2 separate regions of the Homo sapiens genome follow, and region 1 is linked to region 2. Evidence: fine-mapped expression QTL. A gene starts in region 2. The other region holds a variant in brackets. All regions are shown on one strand. Distances are from middle to middle.

What was found.
Region 1: its variant is fine-mapped to the expression of RRAGA in monocytes after LPS (Quach 2016, PIP 0.95).

What each region holds. Positions count from the first base shown.
Region 1 is chr9:19,126,566-19,134,898 of GRCh38, reverse strand. PLIN2 (perilipin 2) reads left to right here and starts at 7,407. Exons shown (of 8, transcript NM_001122.4): 1 at 7,407-7,480. RefSeq lists a silencer at 7,069-7,628 and enhancers at 7,141-7,650, 7,651-8,161. The variant C/T (reference allele first, on the strand shown) is at 3,774.
Region 2 is chr9:19,045,436-19,053,754 of GRCh38, reverse strand. It overlaps RRAGA (Ras related GTP binding A), which reads right to left and starts at 4,328. Exons shown (of 1, transcript NM_006570.5): 1 at 2,730-4,328. The coding sequence starts at 4,095. The coding sequence ends at 3,154. It overlaps HAUS6 (HAUS augmin like complex subunit 6), which reads left to right. Exons shown (of 17, transcript NM_017645.5): 17 at 1-614. It also overlaps a transcript of SAXO1 not described here. RefSeq lists a silencer at 4,070-4,259 and an enhancer at 3,867-4,388.

The DNA of each region.
Region 1 (8,333 bases), 81 kb before region 2:
CTGCACTCCAGCCTGGGCAACAGAGTGCGACTCCATCTCAAAAAAAAAAAAATTAGCCAGGCATGATGGCACATGACTGTAATCCCAGCTACTCGGGAGGCTGAGGCAGGAGAATTGCTTGAACCCGGGAGGCAGAGGTTGCAGTGAGTCGAGATTGCGCCATTGCACTCCAGCCTGGGCAACAGAGCAAAACTGTCCCCCCCCAAAAAATTTTTTTTTTTAATAAAGATAGGGTCTCGTTGTGTTATGCAGGCTGGTCTTGAACTCCTAGTCTCAAGCAATCCTCCTGCCTCGGCCTCCCAAAATGCGGGGATTATAGGCATCGGCCACCATTCTCAGCTCACAACTTTTTATTGGAAGTGTAAGATCCATACAAAAACATATATGTCATAAGTGTACAGCTTGATGAATTTTCACAAAAGAGCATACACATGTATGTAACTAGCTTCCAGAATAAGACATAAAAAGTTACCAGCACCAAAAGGCCCCTAGCAGTCACTAGTCTTCCCACCCCCAACTCCCTGCAGAACAACTACCATCCTTACTTTTTACAGCAGAGCTTACTTTGTTTTTGTATGGTATGAACCTGTAGGTAACTGCTTTCATTTCATTTACATTACATTGCATATATGTGGTTAGTTATGGGTCTCTTCATTCTCTCTTATCACTGTATAACAACCTAAACTTTTCATTTTGAAACAGTTTTCTAAACCCACAGAAAAGCTGAAAGACCAGTACAATGAACACTCATATAACTGTTTTTTGTTTTGTTTTGTTTTTGAGGCCTTCTTATTCTGCTGCCCATGCTGGAGTGCAGTGGCGCCATCATGGCTCATTGCAGCCTCTACCTCCTGGGATCAAGTGATCCTCCTGCGTAAGCCTCCTTAGTAGCTGGGACTATAGGCACACGCCAACATTCCTGGCTAACTTTTGTATTTTTTTTGTAGAAATGGGGTCTCCCTATGTTGCCTGGGTTGGTCTTGAACTCCTGGGCTCAAGCAACCCTCCTGCTTCAGCTTCCTAAAGAGCTGGGATATAGTTGTGAGCAACCGCACTCAGCCTTATAAAACCTTTACGTAAAACATGAAGAGCTATTATTATCTCCACTTTACATATGAGGAAACTAAGACAAAAAGAAATTAGGTAACTAGCCCAGGTCATGCCCCTGGGATCTAATTTTGCCTAGCTTGCTGCTTAGTCATAAAACTATAGCCAGATCATATAACTTATCTGAGACTGTTTCTTTACTGTTAAGATGGGAGTAATAACCCCACTCCATCAAGTTTCCAGGCTGTTGTGAGGCTCAAATATGAGCGACATGGGAAAGTGCTTTGTGAAGAGTAAAGTGGTGGCACCTATCGTCACAAATGCAGGCTTCTGGGCCCCACCCCTCATAGATCTTGACTCAGTAGGTCTGGGGGAGGAGGCATAACGTTTGACAAACATCTTCGGTGATTCTGATAGTTTCCAGACCACCATGAGAAAACACATTTGTAAAACAGTAGCTTTCAAACTTTAGAAATTATAAGAATCACTTGAAGGAATTATCAAAACACAGATTGCAGGGCCCACACACAGAATTTCTGATTTACTAGGTTTGGGGTGAGGCCTGAGAATTTGCATTTCTAAGTTCCCACGTGATGCTAATGCTATTGACCCAGGACCCCCACTTTGAGAACCACTGCTGCAAAGCATTTATATAGGTCAGTTATGAGTACTGGTTAACCTGATAATCCACGATAATTTTATTAAGAGTGACTTCTAAGAAATAATAAGTTGGGGCCAGGCACCGTGGCTCATGCCTATAATCCCAGCCCTTTGGGAGGCTGAGGCAGGATTGCTTGAGGCCAGGAGTTCAAGACCAGCCTGGGCAACATAGTGAGACCACATCTCTAACACAAAATAAATAAAAAAGAAAGAAAGAAAGAAAAGAACAAATAAAAAATAGGAAATATTTATAAAAAAATTATTGGGCACTCACAAGCTGAAACAGTTTCAACTATTTATTCAACACCTTAGTGAACACCTGCTCAGTGCGGGCATTATTATATGTTAACTAGAGGTTACAAAAAGAAAAAAAGTTTTTTGACCTCAAGGAAAAAGAATGTATGAACACATAAATAATATTGTGTGATAAAGGCAAGCATAGGCCGGGTGCGGTGGGTCACACCTGTAATTCCAGCACTTTGGGAGGCTGAGGCAGGCGGATCACGAGGTCAGGAGGTTGAAACCATCCTGGCTAACACGGTGAAACCCCGTCTCTACTAAAAAATACAAAAAAATTAGCCGGGCATGGTGGTGGGCACCTGTAGTCCCAGCTACTCGGGACGCTGAGGCAGGAGAATGGCGTGAACCCGGGAGGCGGAGCTTGCAGTGAGCCCAGATCGTGCCACTGCACTCCAGAGTGAAGACTCCGTCTCAAAAAAAAAAAAAAAAAAAAAAAAAAAAGGCAAGCATAAATGTACAAAGTACAGAGGTGCAAAGATGTCTGAGTGATAGATTCCATCTAAGGTAGTCGGGAGGTCTTCCTGGGGGTGGTGGCATCTGTCCACCACCCTCAGGTGGGAATTTGAAGGATAAATTCCCAGTGAACAAGGTGGAGACAGCATGAGCAATGACATACAGGAATCCTATAATAGGATGTGTTCAAAGGACTGTAAGTAAATCTGTGTGACTAGAGCTTAAAGTTTAAGATAGGTGCAACACAAAGTATCTGAGACAGGACTCAATCAATTTAGAAGTTTATTTTGCCAAGGGTAAGGACACACACATGGGAGACAGGTCTGTGCCTTTCTCCAAAGATGATTTTGAGGGTTTCAATATCTAAAGGGGAAAGGAGTGGATACTGGGGAGAGGAGAAATTGTTAAGGGGTGTGGGCCAGTAAGAGGCAAATGGTTGCATTCCTTTGAGTCTTTGATTAGCCATTGACATGTGAGATGGGGGGGTAGAGGAATAGTCACGCATTCATCTAGCTCAGTGAATCTGCATTTTTAAATAAGATAAAATAAACATAGGCCAGAGGGAGCAATCAAATATTAATTTGTCTCAGGTGAGCAGAGGGATGCTATTGTGTTCTGTCCTATGTCCCACATCTGTGAATATAAGCTATCAATTTACATTGTGAGGATGAAATTCAACAGAACTTTTTAGGGTAAAGATCTTGGGGCCCACAAGGAATTTCCTAGTGGGCAAATTATGAGGGAGGTATGTAGCTTTTTTGTTTTGTTTTCTTTTGAGACAGAGTCTCACTCTGTTATCCAGGCTGGAGTGCAGTGTCTCCATTATAGCGGTCCCCAACTGCAGCCTTGACCACCCAGGCTCAAATGATCCTTCCACCTCAGCCCAGCAAGTAGGACTACAGGCGCATGCCACCACACCCGGCTAACTTTTGTATTTTCTGTAGAGACGGGATTTCACCATGTTGCCCAGGCTGGTCTCAAACTCCTGGGTTCAAGTGATCGCCTGCCTCAGCCTCCCAAAGGGCTGAGATTACAGGCATGAACCACTGCGCCTGGCTTATGTAGCTTATCTTTGAATAGGAGGTTTGTGTGACACAGTCCCCAGCTTGACTTTTCCCTTTGGTTCAGTGATTTTGGGGTCCCAAGATTTATTTTCCTTTCACACAGGTAAAGTCCGGAGAAGAAGCTGGTGAGAAAGAGACAGGAGCCAGATGCTGAATGACGGTAAATCGAATCCTGGAGGGAACCAAACAAAACCCTGAAAACCTCCAGGAATCTCAGGTTGGCCAAATCCTTGGTAATGTCCTGCCACT[C/T]CCCAGGACTGCCACACTGTACACACCCTATCTAATGGCAACCTACTGCAGGGGCCAAGGAAAAACGTCTCCTTTGTCCTCTGGAGGTTCACTGAAAAATCAACTGGCGGAAAGCAAATTAACAGGTCAAAAGATATACATGTATTATTATAAAAAGACGTAAATGTATTATTGGGCATGTGGGGGAACCACAGAGTAATTACTCCACCTCTCAGTGGGCTCAGAAGCTTATATACCCCTCCTGAGGTTACAGAAAGTTTGGGGGCTCAGAGAATGGTGGTAAATCAGGATTTAGTGGCAAGACAGAAATGGAAACTTGGCTAGCAAAAGTCATTTCATTATGTAGATTGGGGTCCCCAAACTTTGGGCCATTTACACTGTGGCCATTTACATTCCTGTTAGGAATAGGGCCGCACAGCAAGAGGTGAGTGGCGGGTGAGTGAGCAATACCGCCTGAGCTCTGCCTCTTGTCAGGTCAGCAGCTGGTATTAGGTTCTCTTAGGAGCAAGAACGCCGCTGTGAACTGCACATGCAAGGGATCTAGGTTGCGGCTCCTTATGAGAATCTAATGCCGATGATTTAAGGTGGAACAGTTTCATCCTGAAAACCATCCCCCTGCCCTGGTCCATGGAAAAATTGTCTTCCATGAAACCTATCCCTGGTGCCAAAAAGGTTGGGGACCGCTCATGTAGATGAAACCTCACAGGTAGTAGCCATTGGAAAGAATAGATGGTTGATGTTTCTTTCAGACCTTTAAAGGTGTCAGACTGTCCATTAACCTTTCCTATATCTGGACGAGGGAAAACCTCAGAGAGCACCTGGCTGCATCAATGCAGATTTTCTCTGTATATTGCAAGCCTCTCTCACACACACACACACACACACACACACACACACACACACACACACACACACCAAACAGCTTCGTAGGACTACTTCCGCCTGCAGGTCCTCTGAACAGCCATATCTCAAAATATGTGAAAGAAGTATATTTTGGGGTAAAATTTTTTGGTTTCCTTCACTACACATCTCACCTTGGGTGTTATTCTTGCCACTGGTTTCATGTTCTCAGACTCACGAAGCTGAAAAACAGTTGGGGATGCAGAATTTGATGTGCTTCATCCTTTGTGGGCTTGAAGAGTCTCTTGTTCCCAAAATTATTCCCTGGGGCCCTCTGCTTCACAGGCAAATAAAAGCAAAAAGAAGCTTGCTCAGCCTTAAGTGAGGAAATGACTCACAGGTTTAAAACAAAAAAGGAAAAGATGGAGGCATTTTGTAGGTGAAAGGGCGAGAGTCTTCTGATGCAAAGTAAGAGGTCATTAGAGCAGGGATGGATTATCAATAAGCAGAGCAAACATTTGCTTAGGGAACAAACAGCGCCGGAACACGAAAAAGAAAAGAAAAACATAATAATTTAATTACTTAAAACACTGAAGATGGCAACATAGGAAAAAACCCAAACCAGAACATTTTTGGACTTCATAACATTTTATGGTTCAGTATTTATGGCTTAGTATTTTATTTTGAATTACATGTGGGGAGGAGGGGTAAAAATACTTTAATTTTTCTTGCTAAGTAAGTACTATTATATATTCAGGTATAATGGGATAAGGGATACCATTTTAATGGGTCCGTTTGGAGCTTTAAATATGATCAACAGTATCTGTGTGCATGCAAGATTGGTTAAGAAACTGGGTTAGACCGAGTGCGGTGGCTCACGCCTGTAATCCCAGCACTTTGGGAGGCCAAGGCGGGCGGATCACGAGGTCAAGCGATCGAGACCATCCTGGCCAACATGGTGAAACCCCGTCTCTACTAAAAATACAAAAATTAGCTGGGCGTGGTGGCCCGCGCTTGTAGTCCCAGCTACTCGGGAGGCTGAGGCAAGAGAATCACTTGAACCCGGGAGGCTGGGGTTGCAGTGAGCCAAGATCGCGCCACTGCACTCCAGCCTGGCGACAGAGCGAGACTCCGTCTCAAAAAACAACAACAACAACAACAACAACAGAAAATGAAAACAAATTGGGGTAAAAGTCTCTGAGAGCTTCCTACAGTTACAACTCCAAAGCTTCACAAAGCCAGTCCCTCCTGGCTGGAGCCAGGGACTCCAACGCTGTGGGCCTCTCAGGGGGCGGACCCGCGGCGCCAGCGCCTGCTCCCTTCCCACCTCCCAACCCTCCTCTCTGCTGTATCCTCCCTGCGAGCTGTGTCGGGGGCCGGGGGGGGGGAGTGGGGGCCGAGGCCGGACAGCTTCATCTGGAAATCCCCCGCCACTCACGGGGGAAGAAGTCCCACGAGCCCTATCTGGCCTCGGGCGCTGGCGCAACTTGTCTGCTCAAATAATCTCGTTCCAAATCTGTGCGTTTTACACAAGAAACAAACAAACAAAACAACAACAACAAAAAAACACAACTGGGACTCAGATGACGTTTTAAGTTGTCTTTGAAAAACAATGCATAACCCTGCACGTATAAAGTTGCCTATGTCACATAACCCTAGGCAGCTGTCATTCTGGAGTGATCTGGAGTTAAGTTTTTTGTTTTCTTTTTCTTTTTTCTTTTCTTTTTTTTTTTTTAGACAGGGTCTCAGTCACTCAGGCTGGGGTGCAGTGGTACAGTGGCGCGATCTCGACTCATTGCAGCCTCGACCACCTGGGCTCAAAAGATTCTTTCACCTCAGCCACCCACCCGCCTGCCCCCAACCCCGCTAAACAGCCGGGACTAGCTGGGACTACAGGCGCGCGCCACCACGCTGGGCTGCTTTCTTTGTATTTTGAGAGAGACGGGGTTTCGCCATGTTGGCCAGGCTGGTGATTCGCTCGCCTCGGCCTCCCAAAGTGCTAGGATTACAGGCGTGAGCCACCGCGCCCAGCCGCCACAAAACTTTTAAAAGTTATTACTTCGCTAAAAATAACAGCGTAGAAGCCATTGTGCAGCGCCACGCGATCTCGGCTCACTGCAGCCTCGACCTCCCAGGCTCAAGCGATCCTCCCATCTTAGCCTCGCAGGTAGCTGGGGCCACAGGCGCACGACACCACGCTGGGCTATTTTTTAAAATAAAATAAAAATCTTCGCCAGGCTGGTCTCGAACTCCTAGGCTCGACAGATCCTCTCGCCTCAGCATCCCAAAGTGTTGTGATTACAGGCGTGAGCCACCGCTTCCATTTTTAGAGTTCTATTCTGAGGACTAACGCCGTTCAACAAGTTGGTGTGAATTTGTTTGCATTTTTCAAAACCCCAAAGCCGGCCTGGGCGCCATCCCCATTTGCCCCGGGCCTCTCAGGACCCCGACCACAGGCAGGACCCCGACCACAGGCAGCGCCCCGACTCCAGGCAGCGCCCCGACTCCAGGCAGGGCTACCTCCAACTCCCAGCCTCCCCAGGCCGGGCCCCCGCCCGGCTCCCGACAGGCTCCTCTCCCCGTGGCGGGGCCCCTCGCCCAGGCAGCACACCCTCTCAACCCGACCGGGCCCCCACCACTCTAGGAGGGCCGGCGTTGGGGGAGGGCGCCGGGACGTGCCCGAGGGTGACACTCGGGCTTGGGACAGGGCGTGCTGCCGCGGGTCACGTGCTGCGGAGGCTTGGGGAGGGGCGGCGAGGCGGGGTTTATAGCCCGGGCGCCCGCGGGCCCCACGCTTTGACCGGGTCGTGGCAGCCGGAGTCGTCTTCGGGACGCGCCTGCTCTTCGCCTTTCGCTGCAGTCCGTCGGTGAGTGCGCGCCCAGTGGGTGCCCCAGCGAACCGGTCCCGGGCCCCCAGCGGCGCCCAGTTGGGGTGGGGGGCTCCCCGGGGCCTTGGGACCGCTGCTCTGCTCCCCGCGGGGCTCAAAGGTGGACGGGACGCGGGGGTGATGGTCCGAGACCCCCCGCTCGCCTCGCGGCTTCCAGGTCCTGGCTGGGTAGGGGCGGTCTGCTGAACCCGCGCTTTCGACCCTTGCCTTTGTGCGTTGAGGCTTCTTTCCTGCCAACAGATTTAGGGCGATTGCTATCGAATGTCCCTTGGCCTGCTTGGGTGGTTGTGGGAAAACAATATTTGTCGAAGGGACATTATCGAAAGGGAAACGCGTTAGAAAACCGCATTTTTTTTTTGACGGAGTCTCGCTCTGTCGCCCAGGCTGGAGTGCAGTGACGCCATCTAGGCTCACTGCAACCTCCGCCTCCCGGGTTCAAGCGATTCTCCTGCCTCAGCCTCCAGAGCAGCTGGGATAACAGGCGCCCGCCACCACGCCCGGCTAATTTTTGTATTTTTAGAAGAGACGGGGTTTCACCACGTTGGTCAGGCTGGTCTTGAACTCCTGACATCAAGCAGTCCACCCCCCTCGGCCTCCCAAAGTGCTGGGATTACAGGCGTGAGCCACCGCGTCCGGCTTGGCTAGCATTTTTGTTAACAGATACTCGGAGAAACAAGAGAAGTATGTCAACAACTTTACTTCTCCCTCCTGAGTATTGCAAGTTTACACATAAGCTCTGAAACTTTGCCTCAAAAGAGGGAGTGGGGTTGTGTGGGTGTGGGTCTTTCAGGAGGGGGACCTGGAGAGCTGGAGAGAGGAAAGAAGTGCAGAA
Region 2 (8,319 bases):
GGCTAATTTATTACTCTAAGTGGATTTCTTATTACATTAATATCAGACATATAGAATGTACTTTGTTTTACTATTTGTAAGATACAAAGGTATATAAACTGACATACATCAGCTTGAAACCTGAGATAATGCTAAAATGTTCTAATTATTTTAAATGTTTAAAGAGGACAACCATGTAATGTTGCTAAACATGAAAAATGTCATCAAGTGGAATAAAGAATAGCTGAAGTTAACATTTGGGGGAAATTGAGCTGAAAACAAAAATATGAGTATTTTGATACCTTTTCTTTACCATGAGACTCTTGACTATGAAGTCAAATTTATCTAAAGGAAAAACAGGAATTCTGGAGACCTGTGTAAAAGCAGACTATTATCTTCCTACTGTGAGAGTACTAAAATTAAAATACGTTTAATGACGTTTTCCTCAATGTAAAAGCATTGAAGTAAATGTTTCTTTTATGTTGCAGATACATAGTTGCTCTAGAGATCACCTTTTTCTTTATGCATTGTGAATAGCAGTCTGCATCCTAAGTTTAAAATATTTGAGAATCCTCTATGGGACTCTCTGTAAATGTTTTAAATACTGTTGTTTTCAATAAATATTTTATACTATCTGGCTCTGGAATTTCCTATATAATCTCAAAAAGAACTATGCCCCTGCAAATCATAAGATGATCACATGTAAAGTTATATTAATAACCTGATCAACAAATTTGAGAGGTTCAGTGATTCAGGTCAACATATTTTGTTACTTCCATTTTAATTACTAGATTTACAGTATATAGTATTTTAAAATGAATTTTTAAGGTTATATCTATACTGTCAGTTTACACATCTGGAGTCTTTATACTAATGTATTGCCAATGGCCCTAATTAGGTAATTTTTATAAATTACACCTGAATAGCTTCTTACTCTTCATGAGTAGCGTCATCCACATCTGCTGCTAGAAAGGGTTTAATGAACATTAAATAATTTTATAAAGCCTTAGAAATTCTAAAGCCCTATCACTTATGTTTACTGTCCATACAAAGATAGCACCTCGAGTGTAAAATGAAAGGCTTAGAGTTGATCACAGGTCTCTTCGCTCTAAAATACTTAGATTTCTTTTCAAACAATCCTTAAGGCAGCTATTGCTGGAAGTGGAATGGGACATTTTAGATCTGTTTGTCCATTTTACTACACCACATTGCCAATCCAAATTAGGAACCTCAGAATCCTTCCTTAAAAGTAGGTGATCTAAGAATCTGTTTCAGTATTATCCAATTTCTAGAGAAATACAAATGGGAAAGTGATCTTGCCCAAAATGAGTGAAACTCTATTCCTTGAGGGAGGTCACTTAGCTTCCTGGGCTTCAGCTTACCCACTATGTAAATTTGGAATTATATGAAGGAATAATCTACATTTAAAAAGCTAGGACCCATCAGTGCTGATATGTGCAAGTTATAAGAACAAAAAAAATTGCCGGGTGCAGTGGCTTATGGCTGTAATCCAGCACTTTGGGAGGCTGAGATGGGTGGATCACTTGAGGTCGGGAGTTCCAGACCAGCCTGGCCAAAGTGGTGAAACCCCGTCTCTACTAAAAAATACCAAAAATGAGCTGGGCGTGGTGGCACATGCCTGTAGTCCCAGCTACTTGGGAGGCTGAGGCAGGAGAATGGCTTGAACCTGGGAGGCGGAGGTTGCAGTGAGATCGCGCAATTGCACTCAAGCCTGGGCAACAGAGCGAGACTCCGTCTCAAACAAACAAACCAAAAATAAATAAAAAGCTATGACTCTTATGGTTAACTTTTCAATGGAAGTAATGGGGTGTAATGATTAGGAGAGTCAGTAGTCAGATTGCCTGGGTTTAGCTGTATGACCTTAATAAGATCATAGTTTGCTCATCTGCTAAAATAGCGATCAAAGTAACCTACCACATAGGTTGTGAGGATTCAGTAAGATAAATGCACAAGTGCTTAAGAACACCTGACATTTAGTAAGGGATCAAATATTCAAATAGGTTTCATATCCAGTAATTTGGGGAAGAATGGCTCAGTAGGTAGTAATGGTAGTTAACAGAGTATGCTATGCGCTAGGCACCATTCCTAAATACTTACCATGTTGAATTTAATCCTTTTAAACATCCTATCAAGTGGTTTTTTATTGTTGTTTTTGAGATAGGGTCTTGCTTTGTCACCCAAACTGGAGGCCAGTGACACAATTATGCCTCACTGCAGCCTCTACCTCCTGGACTCAAGCAATCCTCTCTCCTCAGCCTCCCAAGCAGCTAGGACTGTAGGCACGCACCACTACGCCTAGCTAATGAAAAAAAATTTTTTTTTGTAGAGAGAGGGTCTCTCTATATTGCCCAGGCTGGTCTCGAACTCCTGATCTCAGGTGATCCTCCCACTTCAGCCTTCCAAAGTGCTGGAATTACAGGTGTGAGCCACCACGACTGGCTATAAAGTAGTATTCTGACCCACATTTTACCAATGAGGAAACAAGTGTAATGAAATTAAGTATTTGCCCATGTTCACAGAGCTAGTAAGTGAAGGGACCAGAATACTAACTCAGGTGGTCTAGCTTCAGTCCATAGCATAAGCGCTTCTACAGCTGTTACCAAACATCACTAAAGTGCTGGGGGCTAAATTCACAGAATCAAATTTGCCAGTCAAGCAATACTTGTGGGCAGTCAGAATTTTTAGATTTGCATATTAAGCACTTTCAAGTTATTTCAAATAAGGACATGTTTTAAATTGCTAACACGTTTATTCATGAATGAAGCCAAGAAGAATTTATAAATGCATTTTAATACCTTGCTGATAAAATAGTAACATTCCGTCTTTGCAATCTGATACGGAATACAGGAAGATACTGGTAAAGGCTTTGATGTGCATATCTATCATAACCAGGTAATGAGAACACACACGAACCACCTACTTTAGTGTTACACCATACCAACTTCTCAGAAAGGTCAGCTTCAAGCTCTACTGGGTAGCTGAGTAAATAGCGTCCAATGTTTAAAGACTGGGGAAGCGGGGAGAAAGATGAAAGGAGTAAGCAGCACACACTTCAAAGCCCACTTTTAAGCACACGACATTATGAATATTAAAAATAAAGGATGCAAACAAAAAAGGCAATTCAGCATTTTCAGAAAGAGCATTTGGCAATATTCAACGCATAAGGAGACTGTGCTTGGGGCCATCCACTCTCTCCAGCTTCTCAAAGTGTTTCCGGGCATTGCGAATGTTGATCAGAGTGGCCGCAGAAGGGATCGACGGATCTGACATGACCACCATCACGTACGTATTTGAGGTGAAGATGTCGATGAAAGCAGCGAAGTTGGAATTCCTAACTTCCATGCTCTGGAAGGAAGCGGCCAATTTACTGCAGCTCAGCTTGAACTGTTTGATGATGTTGCTGATCTTCTCAAACCGGTGGACGTCGCGCTGCTCTTTGCACTGGTAGTGGGAAATAACCAAGAATGTAGCTCTTTCGAACAGCAGAACTTCATCGGCCTCAATGATTTGGGCAAAATTCCTGAGGTTCATCTCCAGCTGCTGAACGTTGGGAATCAGCTGGTAGACGATGCTGGACCAGGCTTTGTAGAGCGTCTCATCCCAGATGGACGTTCGAAAACAAGCACACTCCAGCGGGCGAGACAGACGCCTCAGGTCTTCCTCTCGCTCTTTAAAAATCAGGTCACGCTGATCCTCCTGAACCAGATCCATTTTGTGCACCAGGCAGAAGATTTTGGCGTCAGGAGAGTTCTGGAGGATGGCCTCCAGACACGACTGGTAATAATGCATGTCCTTTTCCAGTTCGCGGCTCTCCACGTCAAACACGTAAATCAAAACTTCCACGTTACGGAAGATATTGTCTCGCTGGCTGGTGAAGTAATTTTCCATGAAGGTGTCCTGACCGCCACAGTCCCACAGGTTCAGCACCAGGTTCCCTAGGAATCGGACGTGGGAGTGTTCCACGTCAATGGTGGCCCCCAGGCGCCGGGTGTCGCGAGCAATGTAATTGGCGAAGATTATCGACCTCATGCTGGTCTTCCCCGACCCGCTCTTCCCCATCAGCAGCACCTTTTTCTTCATGGCTGTATTTGGCATCACCCGCCGGGGCACCGCGGACTGGGCCTGAGGGCGCGGCCTACACGCAGCGCCGAGGGAGGGGTCGGGGGCTGCCGGGGACTCGCAGGCCGCGCCTCGCTCCGCTCCGCCGCGCAGCTGGGCAGGCAGGAGAGTCGAGAGCGCGAACCCGGGGCTGGAGAGGCCGCGGACGGGCTGGCTCTTACTCAGATGGGAGCGCCCGCGGCTGTCAGTGGCAACGGCTCGGGAGATACGCTCGCTTTCCGGGAGGGAGCCGCTGCGTCCCCGCCACCACCCACTTCCGGCGGCGATCTCGCGAGAGCTCCCTCGCTCCGCCCTCCGTGCCCGACGAGCCTTGAAAAGCCGCTGCTCTAATGAAACCTAACCGGGGCGGCGTGAGCCCTAAGATGGAAGGGAAGCTCGAGGACTTCGGTCTTTTGTTCTGTTGCAGCTGGGTTTGCTGTTGCTAGGGGTACGTGTGTGGTTGGCCGGGGGAAATGCTGCCCTCTCGTGGCCAAAAAAAGCCCCAACCGCCACCACCACCGCAACTGGCTTTAGGAGCGAGGTGTGTCGGGCCGGTTTCCGCAGGGGCAGCCGACTGGTGAAGTGGAGGGAAAGCCTAACTTCCCAGTCCGCTTAGGCCTCCCCAGCTTGCCCGGCCCAGTGAGTACAAGGGCAGGGCAGATGGAGACTGTGCAGGCGCGGAAAGTGAGACTTGTAGGCAAGCGATTGCCTGTTGCTGCGCAGCTAGGTAATAGCAAGTCCCTCCTAGGAGACATCCTGGCTTCCAGTGGGTGCTTTTAATTCCTTTCTCACATCTGCTTTTCCGTAATCTCAGACTTTAGAATTTATAATTAGAATTCCAAAGCTCGAGGAAATGATAATGTGGAATCCCAGGCATTAGTTCCATCCTCACAGTAACCCTGTGAATTAATAACCCTATTTTCAAGTTAGGGAATCAAAGGTTAGAGAGGTTAAGTCACTTGACCAAGTTACACAGATACTAAATGATGAAATGGAATTTGGTTTTAGACAATCTTGCTGCGGTCTATTTGCCTAACAATAGGCTACCCTGTGCCCCTCTCAAAGCATAATATGATTCTGCTCTTGGTCTTCAAGTAGATGAGTGAATCAGTGTCGCCAGTATCGTTCATACAGAATGAATGAGAGTCATCAGGATACTGAAGCCTCTGTATCTACCTTAAAGTCCTTTTTTTTTCTTTTGAGACGGAGTCTCACTCTGTTGCCCAGGCTGGAGTGCAGTGGCGCGATCTCAGCTCACTGCAACCTACGCCTCCTGAGTTCAAGCGATTCTCCTGCCTCAGTCCCCCAAATAGCTGGGATTGTGGGCACCTGCCACCACGCCCGGCTAATTTTTGTATTTTTAGTGGAGACGGGGTTTCACTATGTTGGCCAGGCTGGTCTGGAACTCAAGCCAGCCACCTGCCTCGGCCTCCTAAAGTGTGGGATTACAGGCGTGAGCCACCGTGCCTGGCCTAAAGCCCTTATCAAAGTGTATACTGTACTGTACAAATTCAGGTATTCCATTCTTTCATTTATTCAAAAAATATTTTAATTCCTACTGTTAACGTGTGCAGTAAAAGAAGTTCAAAAATGGCCTTTGCTGTAGTTTATGGAAATCATAGAGTGAAATTCCATAATACAATATAGTATGTGGAAAATCTCCTCTCAATGTATTCAGTTTCATCTCCTTGGTGCTACCTCTTCTGGAGCCTTCTTATCTGATCGCCTTTCACCACCATTCTGGGGTTTCCCTTCCCCGTTCTTTCGAGTTGGGTATTCTTTTTCCTGATTTCACATCTTCTCATTTTTGGCTCATTTGGTGGAACACATGTTCCAATAGTTTCCAGATAAAAAGTATGAGGAGAGTAAAAATTTCAAGAGATTGGATGTCTGAAAATTTCTTTGTTTTTACCCTCACACTTGATTGGTTGGACATAATTTTTCCTCAGAGTCTTGGAGGCATTGCTCTGTTGCTCCATCGTCTTTTAGCAGCCAGTAGTCTGATGCCTGCTTCTTGGTTTTGATCTATTCTTTCCTCTCTAAAAACATATTCGAAATTTTCTTATTCTAGTGTTCTGAAACTTAATGATAATTGGCATTGTTGAGCCCAAATTTGCATTGTACTGGACTCTCCAATGTGTCTTTTAATTTGGAAACCATGCCCTTGAATTCTAAACAATGTTCTTGAATTGTTTGATGATGTATTTCCTCTATTCTGTCATGTGAATACTCCTAAGGTCTGGATATCACATTTTACGGAGTCTCCTCTAATGTATTTTTTTTCTTTTTTTTGGAGACAGAGTCTCACTCTGTTGCCCATGCTAGAGTGTAGTTGCACGATCTTGGCTCACTGCAACCTCCACCTCCTGGGTTCAAGAGATTCTCTTGCTTCAGCCTCCCAAGTAGCTGGGACTACAGGCCTCCACCACCATGCCTGGCTAAGTTTTATTTTTGTTTTTGTTTTTGTTTTGAGATGGAGTCTTGCTCAGCAGCCTAGGCCGGAGTGCAGTGGCACTATCTCGGCTTACTGCAACCTCCGCCTCCCAGATTCAAGCCATTCTCCCGGCTCAGCCTCCCGAGTAGCTGGTATTACAGATGCCTGCCACCATACCTGGCTAATTTTTGTATTTTTAGTAGAGAGGGGGTTTCACCATGTTGGCCAGGCTGGTCTCAAACTGCTGGTCTTAAGTGATCTGCCCGCCTCAGCTTCCCAAAGTGCTGGGGTTACAGGCATGCGCCACTGCGCCTGGCCTTCTTTTCTTTTTAAAAAAATTTTTTAAATTTATTTTTAGAGACAGGATCTTTCTCTGTCAACCAGGCTGGAGTGCAGTGGTGAGATCATAGCTCACTGCAGCCACCACCTCCTCGGCTCAAGGGATCCTCACATGCCAGCCTCCCAAGTAGCTAGGATTATAGGTGTGTGCCACTATGCTTAATTTTTTTTTTTTTTTTCTGAGACGAAGTTTTGCTCTTGTTGCCCAGGCTGGAGTGCAATGGCATGATCTCAGCTCACCACAACCTCTGCCTGCCGGGTTCAAGCGATCCTTCTGCCTCAGCCTCCCAAGTAGCTGGGATTGCAGGCATGTGCCACCTTGTCTGGCTAATTTTGTATTTTTAGTAGAGATGGGGTTTCTCCTTTCTCCATGTTGGTCAGGCTGGTCTCGAACTGCCGACCTCAGGTGATCTGCCCGCCTCGGCCTCCCAAAGTGCTGGGATTACAGGCGTGAGCCACCGCACCTGGCCTGCCTAATTTTTAAATATTTTTTTGGTAACCCTTTCTTATTTTCTATTTCTGTCTTTTTGTTCTACTTTCCAGGAGATTTTTCTCATCCTAATTTTCCAACTCTTTGGAGTTTTAAATTTTAATATCATATTTTTAATTTCCACAGGCTGTTCTAATTGTTCTTTTTAAAAACATAAAATTATTTTCTTGGATTAAATATATTCTTTTATCTCTCTGAGGATAATAGTAACATTAAGAAAAAGTTTTTATCCCGTTTAGTCTTGGTTTCTTCCAAGTTTCTTTTGTTTGTATGTTCTCCTTATGTTCTCCTTTTTTTTTTTTTTTTTTTTTGAGACGGAGTTTCATTCTTGTTGCCCAGGCGCAACGGCGCAATCTCTGCTCACCGCAACCTCCGCCTCCCAGGTTCAAGTGATTCTCCTGCCTCAGCCTTCTCCAGCAGCTGGGATTACAGGCATGCGCCCCCAGGCCCGGCTACTTTTGTATTTTTAGTAGATACGGGGTTTCTCCATGTTGGTGAGCCACCGCGCCCGGCAGTAAAAGAAGTTCAAAAATGGCCTTTGCTGTAGTTTATGGAAATCATAGAGCATATTCATGTTAGAAACTTTCCTTATTTGTTCAGTGATCATTGGTTGTCTGCTCCTATTTAAAGTTATTTAAAAACCCGTGGGTAGCATTGAAGACTATCAGGTTCATTAAAATGACTGGGCCATTTCTTTGAAGAAAGTCTTGCCGCCTGCCTCATTTAGACCTGTGCTCTTTGGCTGGTTAGATTCTCCCAGGATTCTTCTACTGGGATGGGGTGTGTATAAGCCTGATTAATAGCATTCTGGTTACTAAGTGGGAGAAGAAAGCTAGGTTGCTAATATTCAGTTTATAGGCCAGCTTAATCCTGTTTACAATATGGTACTTCAGTCCTCTGTGTCTCTGGTGTTTCCCTAGTCCAGAGACCCCCTGTTTTACTCTTTGCATCTTTGCAG